2 separate regions of the Homo sapiens genome follow, and region 2 is linked to region 1. Evidence: fine-mapped expression QTL. A gene starts in region 1. The other region holds a variant in brackets. All regions are shown on one strand. Distances are from middle to middle.

Region 1 (8,592 bases):
TAAATAATAAAATAAAATAAAATAGGCAGGAAAGAAGGAAAAGAAAAGAAAGAAGTTGACATAAAAAGTGGGGATGGAAAAAGGAAATAAATGAAGGAGGGAAGGAGAGAGAAGGAAGAAGAGAGGAGGGAAGGGGGAAGGAAGGAGGGGAGGAAAGAGGAGAGAACAGAGAAAGAGGAAGGAAAAAGAGGAAAAAGAAGGAAGGGGCTGGGTGTGGTGGCTCACGCCTGTAATTCCAGCACTTTGGGAGGCCAAGGAGGGCAGAACACCTGAGGTCGGGAGTTCGAGGCCAGCCTGGGCAACATGGTGAAACCCCATCTCTACTCAAAATACAGAAATTAGCTGAGCGTGGTGGCACGCGCCTATAATCCCAGCTACTCGGGAGGCTGAGGCAGGAGAAGCTCTTGAACCCAGCAGGCAGAGGTTGCAGTAAGCTGAGATCATGCCACTGCACTCCAGCCTGGGCAACAGAGTGAAACTCCATCTCAAAAAAAAAAAAAAAAAAAAGAAAGAAAGAAAGAAAAGGAAGGAAGGCGGGAAGGAAGGAAGCAGCCAAGATGGCGCCACTGCACTCCAGCTTGGGAAACAAGAGAGAAAGCATGCAGACCTTGTAGTGCTCAGCCAGGACTATGAAGACCAGCTCAAAGGCGGCACCCTTTTTGAAGGGCATGCTCCTCTTCCTCTCCTCGCTGCCCCACTTCCCGCCCTGCAACGTGTTGAAGACCACCTTGTCCCAGCCGTCAAACCGCGGATTGAAGTGGAAGGCGACGTCTGAGCCCGGATCCTGCCCAACCACAAAGTTCACGAAGAACCTGGCGGGACACAAAGGGCTCATTCCCCTGGTGCCACCTCCCGGGGCCTGGGGGCCTCCTCCAGGAAGCCCTCTCCCTGCCGCCCTGTCCTCGGCCTCCCTGGCCCGGACCTCAGCACCAGCTCTGAGGGGCAACCTTGGCACTGTGGGCCACAGCGTGGAGAGGACCTGAGTTCTGAGGGGGGCAGATTCCCACCACCACACCTTCGCTCACAGCCTTTCCTTCTTTTTTTTTTTTTTTTTTTTTTTGAGATGGAGTCTTGCTCTGTTGCCCAGGCTGGAGTTGGAGTGCCGCGATCTCAGCTCACTGCAACCTCCGCCTCCTGGATTCCAGTGATTCTCCTGCCTCAGCCTCCCAAGTAGCTGGGATTACAGGCGTGCACCACCACGTCCGGCTAATTTTTGTATTTTTAGTAGAGACAGGGTTTCACCATGTTGGCCAGGCTGATCTCAAACTCCTGACCTCAGGTGATCCACCTGCCTCGGCTTCCCAAAGTGCTGGGATTACAGGTGTGAGACACCGTGCCTGACATTTTTTTTCTTGAGACAGGGTCTTGTGTTCTCACCCTGTCCCCCAGGCTGGAGTACAGTGGCCACGATGGTGGCTCACTGCAGCCTCAACCTCCTGGGTCAACTGATTCTCCTGCCTCAGCCTCCCTAGTAGCTGGGACTACAGGTGCATGCCACTATGCCTGGCTTTTTTTTTTTTTTTTTTTTTTTTTTGTAGAGATGGGGTCTCACTATGTTGCCGAGGCTGGTCTCAAACTCCCGGGCTCAAGCAATCCTACCACCTCGGCCTCTCAGAGTGCTGGGATTACAGGTGTGAGTTGCTGTACCCAGCCCACCTTGCCTTCTTAGACCACCTCCTCCACCCTCTTCCCAACTTCCAGTTATGACTGTTACAAGTCTGCCACGGGCCAGGCCCTGTCCTATGCACTTTGGGTCTCCCTGCTCCCCTCCTGGCCCTGAAGATCATTTCCCTCATGCAGCCAGAGGGTCCCTGTGTACACCCATGACGCATCATATTCCGCACCCCTGGGCACACCAGCATCCTTGAAATTACTCCCCAGGACAGGCCTGTCTCAGGGCCTTTGCACTGGCTGTTCCCTCTGCCTGGAAGGCCCTTCCCTCAGCTGTCCCTGGGGATCCCTCTCTCCGTTCCTTCTGTTCTTTGCTGATATGTTCCCTTCCCAGGCAGGCCTTCTCTGGCCACCTTTTTAATTTTTTTGAGACAGTCTCCCTTTGTCACCTAGGCTGGAGTGCAGTGATGCGATCTCAGCTCACTGCAAACTCTGCCTTCAGGATTCAAGTGATTCTCCCACATCAGGCTCTCAAGTAGCTGGGATTACAGGCACCTGTCACCATGCCTGGCTAATTTTGTATTTTCAGCAGAGATGAGATTTCGCCTTTTTTTTTTTTTTTTTTTTTTTTTTGAGATGGAGTCTCGCTCTTTCGCCCAGGCTGGAGTGCAGTGGCGCAATCTTGGCTCACTGCAAGCTCCGCCTCCTGGTTTCACGCCATTCTCCTGCCTCAGCCTCCCGAGTAGCTGGGACTACAGGCACCCGCCACCATGCCCAGCTAATTTTTTGTATTTTTAGTAGAGACGGGGTTTCACTGTGTTAGCCAGGATGGTCTCGATCTCCTGACCTCGTGATCCGCCCGTCTCTGCCTCCCAAAGTGCTGGGATTACAGACGTGAGCCACCACGCCCAGCCAGATGCGATTTTGCCATTTTGGCCAGGCTAGTCTCGAGCTCCTGACCTCAGGTGATCTGCCTGGCTTAGCCACCCAAAGTGCTGGGATTACAGGCGTAAGCCACCATGCCCGGCCAGGCCACCCTATTTAAGGGGACAATTTAAAGGGAACCTCTGTCCGCACATACACTCCCCATCTCCCTTCCCTCCTCATTTTCTTCATAGCACTTAATATCATCTGACATCTTACATATTTGACTTTTTTTTTTTTTTTTTTTGAGACAGAGTCTCACTCTTGTTGCCCAGGCTGTAGTGCAATGGCACGATCTCGGCTCACCGAAACCTCCACTTCCCAGGTTCAAGTGATTCTCCTGCCTCAGCCTCCTGAGTAGCTGGGATTACAGGCATGCGCCACCACGCCCTGGTAATTTTGTATTTTTAGTAGAGACAGGGTTTCTCCATTTTGGTCAGGCTGGTCTTGAACTCCCGATCTCAGGTGATCTGCCTGCCTAGGCCTCCTAAAGTGCTGGGATTACAGGCCTGAGCTACCGCGCCCGGCCTGGACTTATTTTTTATGTTTCCCCTACTAGGACATCAGCTCCACGAGGGCAGGGGTCTCTGTCCTGTTCACTCCTCCATCCCTAGTGCCAGGACACAGAATAGGCACTCAGTGAAGAAGTAAACAATAAATAAATAAACAACAGGCTGGGCAGAGTGGCTCATACCAGTGCCTGATCCTCCCAGCACTTTAGGAGGCCGAGGCTAGAGGATCGCTTGAGCACAGGAGTTCAAGACCAGCCTGGGCAACATAACAAGACTTTGTCTCTACAAAACAAATAATAATAATAAATAAAAATTAAAAATTAAATTAGTTGGGCATGGTGGCACATGTCTGTAGTCCCATCTGCTTGGAAAGATGAGGTAGGAGGATCACTTTAGCCCAGGAGTTGGAGGCCGAAGTGAGCTATAATATTGTGCCACTGCACTCCAGCTTGGGCAACAGAGCAAGACCCTATCTCTAAGGAAAAAAAAAGTCCTATGAGGCCAATCATTATCAACGTGTTAAGGCCCTTTTTAAAAAGCTAAGACTGGGCCAGGCGCAGTGGCTCACGCCTGTAATCCCAGCACTTTGGGAGGCCGAGATGGGAGGATCACTTGAGGTCAGGAGTTCGAGACCAGCCTGACCAACATGGTGAAACCCCATCTCTACTAAAAATACAAAAATTAGCCAGTGTGCTGGCACATGCCTGTAATCCCAGCTACTCAAGAGGCTGAGGCAGGAGAATCGCTTGAACCTGGGAGACAGAGGTTGCAGTGAGCCAAGATCATGCCATTGCACTCCAGCCTGGGCGACAAGAGCAAAACTCCATCTCAAAACAAAAAAAAAAACAAAAAAAACAAAAACAGAAAAGAAAAGAAAATGAAGCACAGAGAGGTATAGTCACTTTCACTCTTTCACCAACACAGAGCTGGGGAGTGGCAGAGCTGGGATTTTAACTCGGGGACCCGGCTCTGAGCCTGTGATCTGAATTCCTGCCATTGCACCCATCAGCTTCAGTCTAATGTCCAACTCAGGGACTGCCTCTCACGGTGAGCCCTCCCTGAACCTTCTGGCCCCCACGTCCCCACTCCTGATCTGCCCCAGATTCATCTCTGGCTATTGGGTGGGGCAGAAAAAGAGTCCCCTCTCCACCAGGGTGGGGTAAGGGCAGAAAGCCCCCAACAGCCAGGCCCAGAGCACCCAGTTGGAAGTCCCCTGCCAGCCCGGCCTGGCTTGGGGAGGGTCTTACCGCTTCATGTGCTCGCTGGCCACTCCTTGGATGTAAACAGACATTCCCACGTTGAGCCCGCCCGGGATGGGCTGGTAGTAAGGCAGCGTCTGGAGAAGAGGCCTGGTGAGGGGACTCACAAGCCATCTGCCTGTTGCAGCCTTTACCCCTCCCAGAAAAGCCCCCCAGTCCCTTAAGCAGGAGAGAGGAAACCATGGGGGAGGACCAGGTTGAAGATGACGAGGGCCAACAGTTAGACGTGGACACAGACAGCCTGAGGTCAGGGTAGGAGTAAATCGAGGGTCGGGGTCAGCTTTGGGTAAATCAGACCACAGAGTCAGATGGGGCCCCCCAGGATCAGAGTGGGGAAAATTGGTGTGAGGGCTTATGGACGGAGCTGCGGGCGGAGTGGGGCCTGAGCTGGCATCTCACCGGGTTGTAGGTGGGCTGGTAGCCCGGTGCGGGGACATAGGCCATCGCTCGAGGCTGCGCTAGTGGCTGGTCCTGTGAGAAGAGCTGCAGGAGTGGGAGATGGTGGCGGATGGCAGGCGGTGGTGGCTCTTATACCCAGGGTAAGGGAGTGGCTGGCAGGGGAGGGTCCACAGGGCTCCTCTTCTGGGACTCTCAGGCTGTCGGCTTCTCCTAGAGCGCACCCTAGTCTCCCTTCCCTTGCCAGCTTCCCTGGTGACCAGCCAGGACCCAAATCACCTGGGTCCCCTCCCCTACGCCCTCCTGCAAAGAGGAAGTGCTCATGAACTTCGGCCCTGCCAGGGCCTTATCAGAGCCCATAAAACCCTGCCCAGACTTCTGTTGGCAGAGGGAGGGTGAGACCAGGCAGGGCAGGGCAGGCTGCAGGAATGACCCAGGACAGGTGGGCAGCGGAGGAGGAGAACGCGGAGGAACTGCAAATTCCTGCCTCTCCCAGCAACTGTGAAGGGACCTACGTTGATTGCGTGCCCACCACACATCTTTACCACGTATGTTGTATTGTAGGGAGAGTGGTTTAGATTACTAGTGTGTGGAGCCAGAGGTTCTAGGTTCAAATCCTGCCTTTGCCACTTCTCAGCTGTATGATCATGGGTCAGTGCCTTACCCTCAATTTGCCCATGTGCTCATCTGTAAAATGGGGATATAGTAGTATCGGCTGGGTGCAGTGGCTCATGCCTGTAATCCCAGCACTTTGACTGGCCGAGGTGGATGGATCACCTGAGGGCAGGAGTTCGAGACCAGCCTGGCAAAATCCCAGTCTCTACTAAAAATACAAAAATTAGCCAGGCATGGTGGTGGGTGCCTATAATCCCATCTACTTGGAGGCTGAGGCAGGAGAATCACTTGAACCTGAGTGGAGGAGAGTGCAGTGAGCCAAGGTCACGCCACTGCACTCCAGCTTGGATGACAGATGGAGACTCTGTTTCAAAAAAAAAAAAAAAAAAAAAGGAATTCATAAGAGAGGAAACAAGTATTGAATAGCTATCAAAATATTTTAAAAATGAATTTGTGATCCAGTAATGCCTGTATGTTATTAATCTGCCAAATAAGTTCTAGCTGTGGGTCCAACTGCCACTCAGAAAAATAAATAAATAAAGAAAAGAGTAGTATCAACCTTAGGCTGGGTGTGGTGGCTTGTGCCTACAATCCCAGCAATTTGGGAAGCTGAAGCAGGAGGACTGCTTGAGCCCAGGAGTTCAAGACCAGCCTGGGCAACATAGTGAGACCCCCATCTCTACAAAAATAAAATAAAAATTAGCTGGGCATGGTAGCACACATCTGTATTCCTAGCTACTCAGAGGCTGAGGCAGGAGGATCGCTTGAACCCAGGAGTTAAGGTTACAGTGAGCTATGATCATGCCACTGCACTCCAGCCTGGGTGACAGACTAAGAGTCCGTCTCTAAAAATAGCAACAATAATAGTCATAATAATAATAATCATAATAGTATCAACTTCATAGAGTCCTTGATCATTAAGATAATAAATGCTCAGAACAGGACATAGCATATAGAAGTCATTAACTTAATGCTTGGTCTCTTGCAGTCATTCCAAACATAAATCCGGAAGATTGGGATGATATATGGATAAAAAATCCCAAAGTTTTGTTTGCTCATTTTTGAGACAGAGTCTTGCTCTATCACCCAGGCTGCAGTGCAGTGGCACCATCTCAGCTCACTGCAACCTCCACCTCCCAGGTTCAAGGGATTCTCCTGCCTCAGCCTTCTGAATAGCTGGGATTACAGGCTTACTCCACGCCTGGCTAATTTTTGTATTTTTAGTAGAGACCAGGTTTTGCCATGTTGGCCAGGCTGGTCTCAAACTCCTGACCTCAAGTGATCCACCTGCCTCAACCTCCCAAAGTGCTGGAATTACAGGCATGAGCCACTGCACCCGGCCAGAAACCCCAAAGTCCTTTTTTGTTTTGTTTTTTCTTTTTTTGAGACAGAGTCTCACTCTGTCACCCAGGCTGGACTGCAGCAGCATGATCTCAGCTCACTGCAAACTCACCTCCTGGGTTCAAGGATTCTCCTGCCTCAGCCTCCCGAGTAGCTGGGACTAGAGGCACCTGCCACCACACCTAGCTAATTTTTGTATTTTTAGTAGAGACTGGGTTTCAACATGTTGACTAGGCTGGTTGCAAACTCCTGAGCTCAGGCAATCCACCTGCGTCAGCCTCCAAAAGTGCTGGGATTACAGGTGTGAGACGCCAGCATCAGATCCCATGTGCTGTGCAGTGAGAGGTGCCAGGCAGGGCACGAACGCCACCCTCAACCCCAGGGCAGGCAGGGAGACCAGGAAGCCTTGCAACCCAGAGGGACCCCAGCGACTTTTGCTCACTCCCTCCGCCCCGGAATTCCTTGTGCCCCTCGCCTGCCCGCTGCCAGTCTGAATGGCCATCACCTCCATGCCACCCATTCCCATGCATCCAACCTCTAGCCCCAGCCTTCAGGACTGCAGTCTCTGGAGCCCCTAGGTGCATCCCAGCCCCTCCCACCTCTCCTCTATCCAAGAAGGGCACCAGGTTCTTTACTTTGCTTTATTGTTTGTGGGGTGAAGATAAGGCCTTGGGCTTGAGAAACTCATTGTCATAAAGTTATAAACTGGGAAACTGGGTCAGAAGGCATAGAAACAACTGTCATCGCCCATCCTCCCTTTCTGTGGATGAGGCGGGACAAGGCCGGCCCCCTGGCTGGGGCCTGGGACGCGAGGGCTCTCAGAGCTTGGAGAAGGTGACGGTTTTCAGTTCCTTGTTCTCAGTCGTGGCCTGGACCGACTTCACGAGGTCTTGGGTCTGCAGCATGCTCATGTTCCAGGACGCCTGGTACCGAGGGTGTTGAGAGAGAACGAGGAGAGAGATTAGCAGGGGCCAATCAGGATAAAGCATGAGAGCACCCTGCACCCTGGTTGGTCGCCTGGGGTTAGAGGAGGGCTGTGATTGGTCGGAGCGTGCACCTTACCACGTAGTTGAGGCTCTCGGCCACCGAATGGTCGCGGGAATACAGCAGGTTGACCTTGGTGCTCTGCACCGCCACGGGGCTCTTGCTGGAAATCTCGGCCGCCAGCGCTAAGGCAGCATCCAGCATGACCTCTTTGTCTGGGAACACCCGGCTGCAGTGAAAGAGATCAGGGACCGGGTGGGCTGGGAAGGGCTCTCTCCTCCAGCCTCCCGCAGATGAAGAAGTGGCCACTCACAGAGGAAGGCCCAAGACCCCAGAGAAACAGCCCAATCAGAGCAGGGGGCTGACCCCACAATAAAGAAATGAGCTCACCAAGAAAGGATGCCACTAGGAATTCTAGAGCGAGGAGACAAGGGGACCCGGAGAGGCCTCCAACCCTCCAGGCCTGGCTGCCCCCAGCACTGAGCTACCACGGCCATGGCCCTACCTGACCAGCCCACTGCCCAGGGCCTCGTCAGCCATCATCTTGCGGGCGGTGAAGGCCAGCTCGTTGACCAGGCTGCAAAGGCAAGCGTGCATCAGGAGGCGGCTGCCACCCCGGGGCTGGGAGATGCTCTGGGGTCTCCTGCCCACACCCCCACACCCCCTGCACCCACCTCTGGTTCCCGATGACCTTGGGCAGGCGCTGCAGTGTTCCTACATCGGCAGCCAAACCCACGTCCACCTCCTGGGGGAGGAATCGGGTCAGTGTTTGGTTTCTGCCCAATACTGTGCCCCTCGCAATGTCAACGTCCATGAAATTTCATGTCTACTGGAGAGTCCCGCCCCACCTTCACCCCAGTGACTTCCTCCAAAGTCCCATTCCATTGCCCAGGCAGCTTCTTGACTCAGGCAAGTTCCTTCAACCTAGAATAGAGCCCACCTTCCCACTC
Region 2 (8,592 bases), 53 kb before region 1:
GCACAATCTCGGCTCACTATAAGCTCCATCTCCCGGGTTCACACCATTCTCCTGCCTCAGCCTCCCGAGTAGCTGGGACTACAGGCACCCACCACCACGCCTGGCTAATTTTCTGTATTTTTAGTAGAGACGGGGTTTCACCGTGTTAGCCAGGATGTTCTCGATCTCCTGACCTCGTGATCCACCCTCCTTGGCCTCCCAAAGTGCTGGGATTACAGGCGTGAGCCACCGTGCCAGGAAAATGGAAAATTTTAAAGGAGCAAGTGAAAAACAGCTCATTATGTACAGGGGAACAATAGAATTAATGGCTAGATTCTCCTAGGAACAATGGAGGCCAGAAGGCAGATGAATGATTTATTCAAAACACTGAAAGAAAAATAAAACTGTCAACTGATAATTCTATATTCAACAAAACTATACTTCAAAACAAAAGGCAAAAGAAAATCATTCCCAGATAAACAAAAAGAGAATTCCTGACTAGCATATACCTAAACGCAGGGAATACTCAAGGAAACCCCTCACACTGAAAATGACAGTAGACAGAAACTCAAATCCACAGGAAGAAATGAAGAGCCCCAGAAATGTATTTTTCTTTTCTTCTTTTAATTTATTTTAAAACATAAGGTCAGGCTGGGCACGGTGGCCCACGCCTATAATCCCAGCACTTTGGGAGGCCGAGGCAGGCAGATCATGAGGTCAAGAGATCGAGACCATCCTGGCTAATGTGGTGAAACCCCGTCTCTACTAAAAATACAAAAAAAATTAGCCGGGTGTGGTGGCGGGTGCCTGTAGTCCCAGCTACTCGGAAGGCTGAGGCAGGAGAATGGCGTGAACCTGGGAGGCGGAGCTTGCAGTGAGCTGAGATTGCACCACTGCACTCCAGGCTGGGCGACAGAGCAAGACTCCATCTCAAAAAAAAAAAAAAAAAAAGAAAAAAACCATATAAGGCCGGGTATGGTGGCTCAAACCTGTAATCCCAGCACTTTGAGGCCAAGGTGGGTGGATTGCTTGAGCTCAGGAATTCAAGACCAGCCTGGGCAACATGGTGAAACCCCATCTCTACCCAAAATACAAAAATTAGCCAGGCATGGTGGTGCAAACCTATAGTCCAGTCCCAGCTGTTCAGGAGGCTGAGGTGGGTGTATTGCTGGAGCCTGGGAGGTCGGAGCTGCAGTGAGCTGTGATTGTGCCACTGCACTCTGGCCTGTGTGACAGAGCAAGACTCTGTCTCAAAATAAATAGACAGACAAATAAATAAAATTGTAAAAAATATATATATATAAAATTGTTTAAAGTAAAGGTTATGCCAGGCACAGTGGCTCATGCCTGTAATCCCAGCACTTTGGGAGGCCAAGGACAGTGGATCATCCGAGGTCAGGAGTTAAAGACCAGCCTGGCCAACATGGCAAGACCCTGTCTCTACTAAAAATATAAAAATTAGCTGGGAATGGTGGCAGGCACCTGTAATCCCAGCCACTCGGGAGACTGAGGCAGGATAATCGCTTGAACCTGGGAGGCAGAGGTTGCGGTGAGCCAAGATCATGCCATTGCACTCCAGCCTGGGCTACAAGAGCGAAACTCCATCTAAATAAATAAATAAATAAATAAATAAATAAATAAAGGAAAGGTTATAAGGCCGGGCATGGTTGCTTACGCCTGTAATCCCAGCACTTTGGGAGGCCGAGGCGGTGGATCATGTGAGGTCAGGAATATGAGACCAGCATGGTCAACATGGTGAAACCCTGTCTCTACAAAAATACAAACTTAACCAGGCATGATGGTGGCTGCCTGTAGTCCGAGGTACTCAGGAGGCTGAGGCAGGAGAATGGCTTGAACCCAGGTGGTGGAGGTTGCAGTGAGCCAAGATCACGCCATTGCACTCCAGCCTGGGCGACAGAGCAAGACTCCATCTCAAATAAATAAAAATAAATAAATAAAATACAAAAAATTAGCTGGGTGTGATGGTGCACGCGTTTAGTCCCAGCTACTCAGGAGGCTGAGACAGCAGAATGGCTTGAACCTGAAAGGTGGAGGTTGCAGTGAGCTGAGATCATGCCATTGCGCTCCAGAGCGAGACTCTGTCTCAAAAACAACAACAACAAAAAAACGCGAGGCACAGTGGCTCACGCCTGTAATCCCAGCACCTTGGGAGGCTGAGGTGGGGGGGATCACCTGAGGTCAGTTCAAGACCAGCCTGGCCAACATGGAAACCCCATCTCTACTAAAAATACAAAAATTAGCCGGGCATGGTGGCGGGTGCCTGTAATCCCAGCTACTTGGGAGGCTGAGGCAGGAGAATCACTTTAACCCAGGAAGCAGAGGTTGCAGTGAGCCAAGATCGCGCCACTGCACTCCAGCCTGGGTGGCAGACTGAGACTCCATCTCAAAAAAAAAAAAAAAAAAAAACCCAGTTATATAGCACTGTATTTTTTTAGAGACATGATCTTGCTCTGTCACTCAGGTTGGAGTGCAGTGGCATGATCATAACCCATTGTAACCTCAGACTCCCAGTCTCAAGCAATCCCCCTGCCTCATCCTCCCTAGTAGCTGGGACCACAGGTATACACCACCACACCTGGATAATTTTTGATTTTTTTTTTTTTTTGTAGAGACAGGGTCTCACTATGTTGCCCAGGCTGGTCTCAAACTCCTGGCCTCTAGCAATCATCCCACCTCGGCCTCCCAAAATGCTGGGATTCCAGGCGTGAGCCACCACACCTGGCCTGTATCCCTGACTAGGTGACATACACAGTCGGGTGCTGCATCACCACGTTTCAGTCAGTGATGGACTGCACATGCGACAATGTCCCATAAAATTACAACGAAGCCGGACTCCTATCACCTAGTGATGCTGCAGCCATCACAATGCTGTAGCACAATTACTTTATTTTTTTAAATTTAGGGTAGCCTAAGAGTACAGTGCTTATAAAGTCTACAGGAGTGTACAGTGCTGTCCTAGCCTTCACATTCACTCACCACTCACTCACTCACACCTGGAGCAACTTCCGGTCCTGCAAGCTCCATTCCTGGTAAGTGTCCCATACAGGCGTACCATTTGTCATCTTTTATTTATTTTTCTGAGATGGAGTCTCACTCTCTCACCCAGGCTGGAGTGCAGTGGCATGATCTCCGCTCACTGCAACCTCCATCTCCCAGGTTCAAGTGATCCTCCTGCCTCAACCTCCCAAATAGCTGGGATTACAGGCGTGCACCACCACACCTGGCTAACTTCTTTGTATTTTTTTTTTTTTTCAGCCAGAGTCTCTATCTGTTGTCCAGGTTGGAGTGCAGTGGCATGATCTTGGCTCACTGCAACCCCCGCCTCCCGGGTTCAAGCGATTCTCCTGCCTCAGCCTCCCAAGCAGCTGGGATTACAGGCACGTGCCACCATGCCTGGCTAATTTTTGTGTTTTTAGTAGAGATGGGGTTTCACCATGCTGGTCCTGCTGGTCTCAAACTCCTGACCTCGTGATCCGCCCACCTCAGCTCCCAAAGTGCTGGGATTACATGCGTGAGCCACCGTGCCTGGCCTAAACTTCTTTGTATTTTTAGCAGAGACGAGGTTTCACCATGTTGGCCAGGCTGGTTTCGAACTCCTGACCTCAAGTGATCTGCCCACCTCAGCTTCCCAAAGTGCTAGGATTACAGGCATGAACTACTGCTCCTGGCCCATTTTCCATCTTTTATACCATAGTTTTACTGTACCTTTTTTATGTTCAGATATGTTTATATACACAAATACTTACCATTGTGTTACAATTGCCCACTGTGTTCAGTACAGTTAAATGCTGTGCATGCTTGTAGCCTATGAGCTGTAGGTTACTTTATATAGCCTAGGTGTGGGGTAGGCTGTACCATCTACGTTTGCATAAGTCACTCTATGATGTTCACACCCTGACGAAATTGCCTAACCATGCATTTCTTAGAACTTAAGACCGTATAGATGACCATATAGAAAACCAGAGACTGGGCCAGGTGTGGTGGCTCACACCTGTAATCCCAGCACTTTGGGAGGCCGAGGTGGGTGGATCACCTGAGGTCTGGAGTTGGAGACCAGCCTGGCCAACATGGTGAAACCCTGTCTCTATTAAAAATGCAAAAAATTAGCCGGGACTGGTGGTGGGCACCTATAATCCCAGATACTCAGGAGGCTGAGGCAGGAGAATCACTTGAATCCAAGAGGCAAAGATCGCACCATTGCACTCCAGCGCCTGGACCACAAGAGTGAAACTCCGTCTCAAAAAAAAAAAAAAAAAGGAACCGGGAAGGTCATGAAAGGAGCGTGCTCATGCACAAATGCCTGATAGGAAC[G/A]ATTGCGGAAGACTCTCCAAAAACCACAACCTCGCACAAAGTCCACTGCAACGTTACACAGAAAGTACTTTTGTCCAGTAACTGCCTGTCCAACCTTGGACTGATGCCACCCTTGTTTCAAGTCTCGTAGCCAAGGATAATTGATTCAAAACACTTTATGTAATCCTCCTCATTTTGCCTTTGAAAACTTCCCCTTGGCTGGGCATGGTGGCTCACACCTGTAATCCAAGCACTTTGGGAGGCTGACCCAGGCAGACCCCTAGAGTCCAGGAGTTTGAGATCGGCCTGGGCAATATGGTGAAACTCTGTCTCTAGAAAAGATACAAAAATTAGCTGGGCATGGTGGTGTGCGACTGTATTCCCAGCTACTCAGGAGGCTGAGGTGGGAGGATGGCTTGAGGACGGGAAGCGGGGGTTGCAGTGAGCCGAGATTGCACCACTGTTCTCCAACCTGGGCAACAGATCGAGATCTTGTCTCAAAATAATAATAATAATAATTATTATTGTTATTATTATTTAAAAATTTAAAACTTCGCCTTGCCTCAATCTCCTCTTTTTTTTTTTTTTTTTAAGATAAGGAGAGGCCAGCTATGCAGTGGCTCACACCTGTAATCCCAATACTTTGGGAGGCCAAGACGGGCAGATCACAAGATCAGGAGTTTGAGACCAGCCTGGCCAATATGGTGAATCCCCAACTCTACTAAAAATACAAATTAGCTGGGTGTGGTGGCAGGCACCTGTAGTCCCAGCTACTCGGGAGGCTGAGGCAGGAGAATCACTTGAACCAGGTTGCAGTGAGCTGAGATCACACCACTGCACACCAGCCTGGGCAATAGAGAGAGACTCCATCTAAAAAAAAAAACACACACAAAAAAAGAGAGAGACATAGGATTGGGCCGGGCACAGTGGCTCACGCCTGTAATCCTAGCATGTTAGGAGGCTTAGGCAGGTGGACCACCTGAGGTCTGGAGTTTCAGACCAGCCCAGTTAACATGGCAAAACCCCATCTCTACTGAAAATACAAAAATTAGCCAGGTGTGGTGGCACCTGCCTTTAGTCCCAACTACTTGGAGGCTGAGGCAGGAGAATCACTTGAACCCAGGAGGCAGAGGTTGCAGTGAGCTGATTGCATCAGTGCACTCCAGCCTGGATGAGAGAGACTCCATCTCAAAAAAAAAAGAAGAAGAAGAAAGAAAGAAAGAAGGAAGGAAGGGAGGGAGGGAGGGAGGGAGGGAGGGAGGGTGGGAGGGAAAGAAATTATTATGTGAGATAAGACAGGTGGATCTCGTGAGCCCAGGAGTTTGAGGCCATCCTGGGCAACATAATGAGACCCCCATCTCTATTAGAAAATAATAATAGTAAAAATAAAAAATAATTTAAAAAGTATTACTTCTAACTATAATGGAACTAAGCTAAAAGCCAACAATAAAATGAAATTTAGAAAATCTCTAAATATAAGAAAACTAAACAACATACTTGTAGATGACCTATGTGTCAAAGAAGGAATCTGGCTAGGTGTGGTGGCTCATGCCTATAATCCCAGCCAAGGGAGGCCAAGGCCAGTGGATCACCTTAGATCAGGAGTTCGAGACCAGCCTGGCCAACACGGTGAAACCGTGTCTCTACTAAAAAATACAAACATTAGCTGGGCGTGGTGGCTCATGCCTGTAGTCCCAGCTACTTGATAGGCTGAGGCAGGAGGATTGCTTGAACCTGGGAGGTGGAGGTTGTGGTGAGCTGAGATCACGCCACTGTACTCCAGCCTGGGTGACAGAGTGAGACTCCATCTAAAAAAAAAAAAAAAAAAAATCAAAAATGAATTTAGAAAATACCTTGAGCTGAATAAAAACAAAAACACAGGAAATAAAAATGTACAGGATGCTGGCAATGTAGTAATTAGCGGGAAACTTATAGCTTAAAAAACATATTAGTGTTGAGTCAGCCTGGTGAAAATTTTAAAAACCCCAACACATTAGAATGGAAAGAAGGCCTAAAATCAATAATTTAGGCTTCCACCTCCAAAGCTAGAAAAAGAAGAGTAAATCAAACTCAAAGAAAATAGTAAGAAGGAAGTAATAAAGATCTAAATGGACAGCAATGAAACAGAAATATAAAAACAATAGAGAAAAAGCAATGAAACTGAAATTGGCTCATTGAAAACATCAACAAAACCGGTATTGAAAAGATTAACAGGCCAGGTGTGGTGGCTCACACCTGTAATCCCAGCAGTTTGAGAGGCCAAGGTGGGTAGATCACTTGAGGTCAGGCGTTCGAGACCAGCCCGGTCGACATGGAGAAACCCTGTCTCTACTAACAATACAAAAATTAACTGGGCATGGTGGCACACACCTGTAATCCCAGCTGGAGGCTGAGACAGGAGAATCACTTGAACCCAAGAGGCCGAGGTTGCAGTGAGTCGAGATCATGCCACTGTACTCCAGCCTGGGTGACAGAGTGAGACTCTTGTCTCAAAAAAAGAAAAGATCAGCAAAACTGGGCCGGGTGCAGTGGTTCCCACCTGTAATCCCAGCACTTTGGAAGGCCGAGGCAGGTGGATCACCTGAGATCAAGAATTCAAGACCAGCCTGGCCAACATGGTGAAACCCCGTCCCTACTAAAAATACAAAAATTGGTGGGGCATGGTGGTGGGCACCTGTAATCCCAGCTACTCAGGAGGCTGAGGCAGGAGAATCGCTTGAATCCGGAGGTGGAGGTTGATGTGAGCCGAGATCACACCACTGCACTCCAGCCTTTGGCGACAGAGTGAAACTCTGTCTCAAAAACAAACAAACAAACAAACAAACTAGTATACTGGTTTTCAATGAAATCAGTTAGCTCATTAAAAAGTTCAACAAAAGAGTAAGAAAAATAAAAAAGACAGAAGCCCTCAATTACCAAAAGCAAGAATGAAGGAGGGAAAAACACTAACATGGTACACAAATTTTAAAAAATCACAGGGGAATATTATGAACAGATTTAGGTCAACTAATTAGGCAATTTAAATGAAATGAACAAATCCCTAGAGAGACACAAATTACCAAAACTGACTCAAGAACAAAATAGAAACACAGATACAATTTTTGTACAAGTATCCATTGAAATGTATTGAAAAATGAAAATGACATAGAATAAACAAAACAATTTTGAGAAAGGAGAACAAAGTTGCAAGGCATATAATGTGACTTTAAGACTCACTATTCACTTTGGGAGGTCAAGGTGGGTGGATGGCTTGAGCCCAGGAATTCCAGACCAGCCTGGGCAACATGGCGAGACCATGTCTCTCCAAAAAATACAGAAATTAACTGGGTGTGGTGGCATGTGCCTGTAGTCCCAGCTACTTAGGAGGGTGAGCCCAGGAGGTTGAAACCACAGTGAACTGTGATCGCACCACTGCACTCCAGCTTGGGAAACAAAGTGAGAATCTGTCTCAAAAAAAAAAAAAAAGAAGAAGAAGAAGCCAGGCGCAGTGGCTCATGCTTGTAATGCCAGCACTTTGGGAGGCCGAGGTGGGCAGATCACCTGAGGTCAGGAGTTCGAGACCAGCCTGACCAACATGGTGAAATCCCATCTCTACTAAAACTACAAAAATTAGCTGGGCATGGTGGCAGGCACCTGTAATCCCAGCACTCAGGAGGCTGAGGCAGGAGAATTGCTTGAACTCAGGAGGCAGAGGTTGCAGTGAGCTGAGATTGTGCCATTGCACTCCAGCCTGGGTGACAGAGAGAGACTCCGTCTTTTTTAAAGGAAAAAAAAAAAAAAGGCCAGGCGCAGTGGCTCACGTCTGTAATCTCAGCACTTTGGGAGGCCGAGGCAGGTGGATCACAAGGTCAGGAGTTAAGAGACCAGCCTGGCTAACACGGTGAAACCCCGTCTCTACTAAACATACAAAAAAATTAGCCGGGCGTGGTGGTGGGTGCCTGTAGTCCCAGCTACTCTGGAGGCTGAGGCAGGAGAATGGCGTGAACCCAGGAGGCGGAGCTTGCAGTGAGCAGAGATCACGCCACTGCACTCCAGCCTGGGCGACAAAGTAAGACTCCGTCTCAAAAAAAAAAAAAAAAAAAAAGAGAGAAAGACTCACTATAAAGCTACAGTAATCAGGAATATGCTATCATGATAAGGATAGATATATAAATCAAGGAATCAGAAGAATGATTAAGTCCAGATTTAAAACAACAAAAATGGTCAATTAATTTTTAACAAAATTGCCAATATAATTCAATGAGGAGAAAAAACAGTCACTTCAACAAATGGTGCTGAAATAACTGGACATCTATAGAGTGA

The links. PIP is the estimated chance that this variant, and not a neighbour inherited with it, causes the effect.
Region 2: its variant is fine-mapped to the expression of LGALS4 in lung (TOPMed, PIP above 0.99).

The regions. Positions count from the first base shown.
Region 1 is chr19:38,808,137-38,816,728 of GRCh38, forward strand. It overlaps LGALS4 (galectin 4), which reads right to left and starts at 4,809. Exons shown (of 10, transcript NM_006149.4): 1 at 4,706-4,809; 2 at 4,295-4,383; 3 at 608-812. The coding sequence starts at 4,750. It overlaps ECH1 (enoyl-CoA hydratase 1), which reads right to left. Exons shown (of 10, transcript NM_001398.3): 7 at 8,317-8,387; 8 at 8,148-8,219; 9 at 7,721-7,871; 10 at 7,286-7,581. The coding sequence ends at 7,477. RefSeq lists a silencer at 7,619-7,819.
Region 2 is chr19:38,755,386-38,763,977 of GRCh38, forward strand. No RefSeq gene overlaps it. Among named protein-coding and RNA genes, the nearest start is that of LGALS7, 14 kb to the right of the region's middle. The variant G/A (reference allele first, on the strand shown) is at 4,312.